2 linked regions of the Homo sapiens genome follow. The protein of the gene in region 1 interacts with the protein of each later gene in a biochemical or structural test. Each region holds a gene or a part of one and is shown on either strand. Other genes may lie near its edges. The genes, in order: SLC9A2 and RASA1.

Region 1 (3,833 bases):
TAGAGTCCAAATTTTCAACGAATAGTTTAGCTTGGGAGCCACAACTAATGTTTTGTTTCATTTTAAATTAAAAGGTACTGTAGGAAAAAGGGTCAGGTAAGAGTCACGTGGATGAAATGGGGACACCTTATGGGGACACCAGCTAAGAAGCTGCTGAAACAGCCCCCACATGAGCAAGGAGGACTCCTGACAAGCTGTGTGGCCCGTGTGCCACTTCACCTCCCTGTGCCTCAATTTCTTTATCTGTGAAATGGCGACAACAGTAACACCTACCACTCACTGGAGGATTAAATGAGTTAATGCATGCAACACACTGAAATGGGGCTTGGAAAATTGAGGACACTCTCTACTCTGTAGCTGTGTTGTTAGCAAATTATTAGAATAAGGTGCTAACAATGGAAACGAAGTGAAAGAAGTGGCTCAGAAGAGAAGAAACTATAGCACTTTATAAATAACAAGGAGGGTGAGGTCCATTTTTAAAGTCTAAGCTATAAAACTATTTCTTTAAAACAAACAGCAATCAATTCATTTCTTTAAAATTAGTCAACGTGTATTTCTTTGTATCCAAGCCCACAGCAGCAGAACTCCCAGGGGACCCCAAGGCTTCAGCCATGGTGTCCAGGAGGATAGTAGGACCCTGAAGAGGGATGGAGAGAAGCAGAAGGAGAGAAGATGCCCAGCATGGGACCTGCTGAGCCCAGTGTCAAGATGCAGCCTCCAGTTACAGCACAAAACCAGAAGGCATCCTGTTAGCCAAAGGTAAGTAAATATTTTGCTACATAAATTATTCTTACTCGCTGACGGATTTGATAGAGATTTCTTGATAAGAGTTCTCGAATTTCATCAGTTTCACTGGACGTGACCTTCCTTATTTTTTCTTCACGACAATCACTGTGAAAGTTTAGAAAAAGAATATTTTACCTTTCAACAAATATTAGAATCATTGATTTTCTTCCTTAGAGATATAAGTATTTAAGACAAGTCTTAATTTGTAAAAATAGCACTTAGGGATTATTCAATAACTTAAAATAATTCCAAATTCTGTGACTCTTATTTCAGTTTCAAAATCATTCATGGCAAGTTTAACAATTCACAAGTTTTCAGAATCTATTCATGTCATTATGTTTTCAGGGAAGAAAAACTACAATGGCTTATAATGCTACCTCACTTTATTATTTCTAACACTCCATAAATAAAGTAAAATAGAATAGTTTTCTCCAACAGAAACCTAATTGACTTCAATTTACCATTAAGTTTTCATATTTTAAAAACCTCATCATAAATATTTGCAAACACACCATTTATAACATGTATGTATATCCAGTCAATCCTCATTTGTGGGTTCCATAATCATGAACTCACCTCACCTACTTGCTAATATTGATTTATAAACCCAATATCAGAATTTCAGTATTTTTGCAGTTATTCTCAGACATATGGAGAGTGACAAAAAATTTGAGTCACTTGACACAGTTTCCCTGAAGATGTTGAACAAGGAGACATCTGCTTTCTTGTTTCCACTCTCATACTATAAATAATGTCCTTCTCACAGTCTATTTAGTGACATGATTTTTTAATATTTTTATGTTATTTATTGGTGGTTCTGCTGCTTTAAATGGCCCCCAGGCATTGCTGAAGTGCTGTCTAGAGTTCCCAAGCACAAGAACCCTGTGATGTGCCTTATGGAGAAAATTTGTTAACTAAGCTTGATCATACATGAATTTATAGTGTTCTTGACCATCAATTCAATGTTAATGAATTAGCAATATATATTAAATAAGGTGTCTGTAAACATAAACATACATAAAATAGGTTACATATTGATTGGCTGATGAAAATTTTGTGACCACAGGCTCAAAGGAACCTAACCTTTATGTCCCCATAGAAAAATGATTCAGTATTTGCAGCTGGGCACAGTGGCTCATGCCTGTAATCCCAGCACTCTGGGAGGCCGAGGGGGGCGGATCAATTAATAATAATTTTTTTAAAATTATTATTACCAGTTTCAAAATACTATCAATGCCTATTTAACAATACTAACTTTTATTTGCAAGACCATACTTACTTTAGAGATGCAAATGTAGGGACAGTACTTATCATCCCAGTCTCTGCCATCTCAATGGCATGTTTTATTTCAAGCTTTTTATATAAAGATACAATACTTGACTTTGGTTGGTTTTCCCGAATCAAAAGCTTCCGCAGATATTTATCATCAAACTTCTTAAACCTGTAAATAAAGAAACTTTCAATAAATTAATACTGGATTGACTAAGAAAATAGTTGTTGTTTTTACCAATGAAGTCATTTCTGCCATTCCCAGGAAAATACTTAGTAGCAGCATTTAGCTAATCTGGTCATTTTATATATTTAGTATGTGCCTACCTGTATATATGTATATGTGTATGTGTATATATGTATATATGTGTATGCGTATGTATATGTATGTGTATGTATACATATGTATATATACATACACATACACATATATGTATATATGACACATACTGCTACATTTTTGTATATGACCCTGATGCACATAAATCTAGTATTCATTAATTACAGATTAAAATACATGTTTCTGTCTTTACCATTTCTCTACTTCTGCTTTTAGCGAAATTGCTCAGAAACGTTATCACTGTTTGTTTTCCCCAATTCCTCTCCTCTGATTCTCTCTTGAACATTCACATTGCCTCAATACTCCATTAAAGCTACTCTTATCAAAGTGGTCTGTGAACCTCATGATATAACTGCAGTGGGCAATTATGAATCCTCATCTTTCCTGCCCTCACTTGTGTAAACTATTGTCTTCATTTGGCTTCCAGGACACCACCCTGGGGTACCCCAACCTCCTTCTCACCCTCCCTCTCAGTTTTGTTTTCTTCTTTTGACCTGTTAATGTAGGAGTGCTCTGGGCCTCGGTTCTTAATCCTCTTTCATACCGCCACTCACTCCCGTCACCATCTTGCCCAGTCTCCTAGCTTTTAATAGCATCTCTATGCCAATGACCCCCAGATTTGTATCTCCAGCTCCAACCTCTCGGCCAAACCCCAGATATGAGCTTTTGGCTACTTACTCAACATCTGCAGTTGGATATCTATGGGGCATCCCAAATTTAACATATTCAAACTGAACTGATATTCTGCCAGAGTCCTCCCATCTCAGCAAACGATGACTCCACCAGGTCAAAAATCCTGGTGTCATCCTGGATTCTTCTACTTTTCTCATGTTCTATGTTATGGGCTGAATTGTGTCCCGCCAAAAATTCATATGTTAAAGTCTAATCCCCAGTAGCTCAGACTATGACCACATTTGAAGATCTAGTGTTTACAGAAGTGATTAAGTTGAGGCCATCAAAATGGGCCCAAATCCAAAATGACTGGTGTACTTATAAAAAGAAGAGGTTTGGATTCCAAAACATACAGAGAGAGGGAAGATGATGTGAAGAGGCAGGGAGAAGACAGCCATCTACAAGCCAAGCAGAGGGGCGTAGAACAGAACCTTCCCTCGTGGCCCTCAGAAGAAATGAGCCCTGCTGACACCTTGCTGTCTGACTTCTAGCCCCCAGGATTATGAGACAATTCATTTCTGTTGAGCCACTCAATCTGTGGTACTTTGGTTATGGCAGCCCTAGCAGACTAGTACTCCAAATCTTTGCGCCATCAGCAATTTCTGTTGGTTCCACATCAAAATACATACAAAATCCAGCCATCTCCCACCTCATCTAATGCTATCACCCAGGTCCAAGACATCATTCTCTCTCGGATTCTTGTAGTGAGCACCAAATTGGCATTCCTGCTTCCACCATTGCATTCCTACAGAAGCCCAAGTGCTCC
Region 2 (3,833 bases), on another chromosome or scaffold:
CCGTTTCTGCTGTGTTGGTTTAGTGTTGTTATTTAAAGTGGAAGAATAATCTTTCTTATGTTTTTAACAGTTGGCATGGACTAAGAAAGAACATTCTCTTTCATAAAGAAGTAACGTTTTCCTGCTACTGAAGCAAGTGGCAGCATGGCTTAACCCCATATGATGTCCAAAACAGTTCAGATAAAAATAAAATAAAAAGAGCAAAGTGTTAGAGCAAAATGTGACAATTAAAAATCCAAGAAAATTAAGCTTCACCTGACGAAGGCGTTTATTGGATGTCCCTGGACTACTTTTCCGTAAATTGCAAAATGCCTGCAGACCTTTCATCCAATCCTGCAAAGAAAAACAGCACTTCAAAGAAATATACACTAGTTTATTTGGCTTCCAAATCATCAGTTAGGTTTTTTTTTTCAAATTCAACAATTTTTTCCTTCTCTAGACTGCCATTTCTATTCTCAGACTATACTGTACTTCATAACAATAACCAATAATAAAATAACAATAACATAACAATAACAATAATAAAACAACCAAAACAATTGTAATTCTGTATAAATCTTTGTTTGAATTTATGTATGAAACACATCGAGTGGCCATTAATTAGCCAAAAAATCAAATTTACATTAAAGAAACTATTTCTCCCAAACAGATACTACCTTGGGGAAATTAACTGTATAATTAAGCTGTTATACTTGAGGCAAGCTTAGGTGGAATTTAACTTGATACACTTTGTGAGAGGGGGAGAGTGCTGATTGTAAAACCAACTGATAATGTGATGACCGATCCCATGACAAGCATATTAATCTATACTTTAGACCATGATACAGGTAGAAATGTATAAGGGGATTTGGGTTATTTTTAAGCTTCTCAAATATAACATTAGATTTTAAAAATCATTTTAGCCTAATATTCAAATCAAATTGCAGCCATATTTTTAAAATGTTTATCTAGTGCTTTGGGGAAAAGGAGAGAACTAAGGTTTATTAAAAACAAATCTAAATATTCACTTTGGTTTTTACATATTTCTGGAAAGCTGTGTACTATTGCTTTATTCAATTATGTCTTTAGTTTGTTGGCTATTTCAATGAAGCTGAACTTTATTAATATCTAGAGACTGTCTTTATATTACAGCAAATTAAAACCAAATCAGTTACCATAGCTTTTTGAAATAGAAGAGAATAACCAGAGACCCCCACAGCCCAATAAATCAACAAAAACTGGAAATACCATTTATGGAAATACAGAAATATTATGTATAAATACATTAAAAAATGTTCTATGTTAGGCTTGCAAAACATGCTGAAATGTCATTATGGTATGTGACATTTTATTCAGAAAGAGGGACCATGGTAAAATACTTAGAAAATAGGATACTGAAGTTTAAATTTCTAACTCAATTTCTAACATTTAAAAAAATCATGTAAGTTACCAAAATGTTTTGAGCACTACCTTTCTCATCTAAAAATTAGGGATACATAGCCGTAAAATTTTATGTGCATTACATGTGAAATGAGCATTAAATGAGATATTTGATAAAGATGTGAAATATGACGTTCAGTTGTAAGCTCATTCAGGTTTATTCTGTGAGTCTCACGCTAGGATCTAGTTTTAAGAGCATCTTCCTCATATCTAGGGTTGGCAAATTATATTTCCAACAAAGCCACTTTCACTTCTTAACCACCTTTAAGTTCCTTCGTTAGAATATAAGCAGAAATTTAGCTGTATTTGTATAAAATACAACCATATACTCCAGAAATATTAGGGTTCAAAGAAAGCAAAAAAATTTTTTAAGAGACAGTGTCTCAGTTTGTTGCCTAGGCTGGCTTACAGTGTCTCGATCTTACTCACTGTAACTCAAACTCCTGTGCTAATGCAATCTTCCTGCCTCATTCTACCCAGTGGCTGGGACTACAGGCATAAGCCAGAACACCTAGCTAATTTTTTACTTTTGTTATAGAGGTGGGTTCTCCCTTTGTTGCAAAATATTTTTTAAAGAGTGTTTTTTAAAAAATATTATTTCTTCACACAATTACTTAATAGACGCTATAAGAAGGACACTGCACATGGATTAATAGCTAATCTAAAGTAGACATTATATCTCGACTTGGCTTAGAGAATAGATTCCTAAAATATCTTTCCTTGTGTTGACTGACTTTTATTTTCAGACATGGAGTTCAACCAGTGAAGAATAATGCTTGTTAGCAAAACTAACTGGTTAACTGGCTTACCTTTGGATTATACTGAGATGACCTATAACCTTTATGCAGAGAGGATTTTAAATGAGCATTCTCAGTTGGCCTCAACATCATAGAGTATTTAAAGGTCAATTTAAAATGGAGTTTTCATTCCTAATAACCCTTCACTGTGTTTGTTTTTGCATTTCTTTCAGAAAACTTTTTACATATGAAATCTCATTCCTTAAAATAAGAGATGATTAGATTTCAGGCGTTCTGTCACTTTATCTTGAATGCGATCATTTTCTATTCCAGTTAATAAGAAAACATGGGCTAACATAAAAGTATACTGTAGTTTGAGAAACAGTAATCTTACCTCTGCTTGTTCTGGAGTTTCTCCTGCAAAGTAAAAGATGTAATGTTCTTCACTAAAGTGCTGAACTACTATCTGAAAACAGTTTGGCCTTTAAAATAAAAACAAAAATTATTAGGAAGCTTAATAAAAAGTAGCAAAATATTTATACCAGCTTCCAAAACACTCACAATAAATAATTAACATAAAATTATAATTCTTAAAGAAATAATACTCCATTGTACCAGATCATTACTAAAAAAAAGTCAGCTATATATATTTTAGAAAACTTTATGTCAGCACTATTAAAATGTTATCAGTATTTCAAAGTGTAAACTAAAGAAATTTCAATTAATTGTAAAATACATTAGAAATAAAGTTACAAACAGATTGAAGCTGAACTGCTAGAACTGCACACAGCTAATTTGAAAAGCTTTATATGCACTGGAAAAAGACTAGAAATGTTCTTAGACCAAAAATGTTCTAAGTAATTATCTCTAAGGAGATTGTAGGTGATTCTGTATTTTCAAATTTTTCTAAACTGATCATTTTTCTTCACCTGTTAAAATGGAAACATCATCTCTTCATACATATGCTTGTTCTAGAGTTTAAGTGAACAGTTGTGTACAACAAATGTTCTTGTCTTCCTTTAGTATTATTTCAAATCATTTGATATGTAAGTACAATATTAGGTAATAATTTATATCATTTTGGAAATGTGCTATCTTTCCAACTAGACTTGAAAATATTGGTAAAATCTTTATTAAGGGCCTGCATGTTTTTGGAACTCAATAAATGTTACTTCTGTTTCCTGCTTTAAAGATTTTATATCATGCTAATGTTAGGAGGCCATAGCAAAAATACACAGAGGACAAGCTTAACACTTATTAAAGATAAAGACTATATTTTCATGCTTTGAGAATGTCTTAAAAGTAATCATGGAAAATAGGAATTGGAAACTTCTAATCCTAAATGTTGCCTGTATCAGACTAACCACCCTAGTTGGATAAAACTTAAAATAGTAATACAAAACAGAAAAACAACTGTTTGAAAGCACTGGAGAACAACCAAAGCAGCTAAGATTTGAGGAGCCAAGATCATACTATAATTAACCCGACATTCTCCACATCTTTTCCGTTCAAGGCAGTTGCCAGTTCCTAAGCTGGCTGTGTAGCTGAGACGCTAAGCAGAAAATAGTTCCTAAAAGGCTAAAAAATTAACTACAAATCCAGTAGTTTGATAGTGCTAGGAGAAAAAAGAATGAATTTCAGGCTTTCCATTGAGACCCCTGAAGGGCTGTGCCTTCA

The links.
Region 2: the proteins of SLC9A2 (region 1) and RASA1 form a complex in vitro, tested with the Homo sapiens proteins (one study listed by BioGRID).

What each region holds. Positions count from the first base shown.
Region 1 is NC_000002.12:102,699,464-102,703,296, reverse strand, and holds part of SLC9A2 (sodium/hydrogen exchanger 2 precursor), read right to left. Parts: intron 2,228-3,833; coding exon 2,066-2,227; intron 892-2,065; coding exon 795-891; exon of another isoform or gene 570-794; intron 1-569.
Region 2 is NC_000005.10:87,368,618-87,372,450, reverse strand, and holds part of RASA1 (ras GTPase-activating protein 1), read right to left. Parts: intron 2,639-3,833; coding exon 2,551-2,638; intron 334-2,550; coding exon 256-333; intron 1-255. UniProt on the Homo sapiens protein: Inhibitory regulator of the Ras-cyclic AMP pathway. Stimulates the GTPase of normal but not oncogenic Ras p21; this stimulation may be further increased in the presence of NCK1.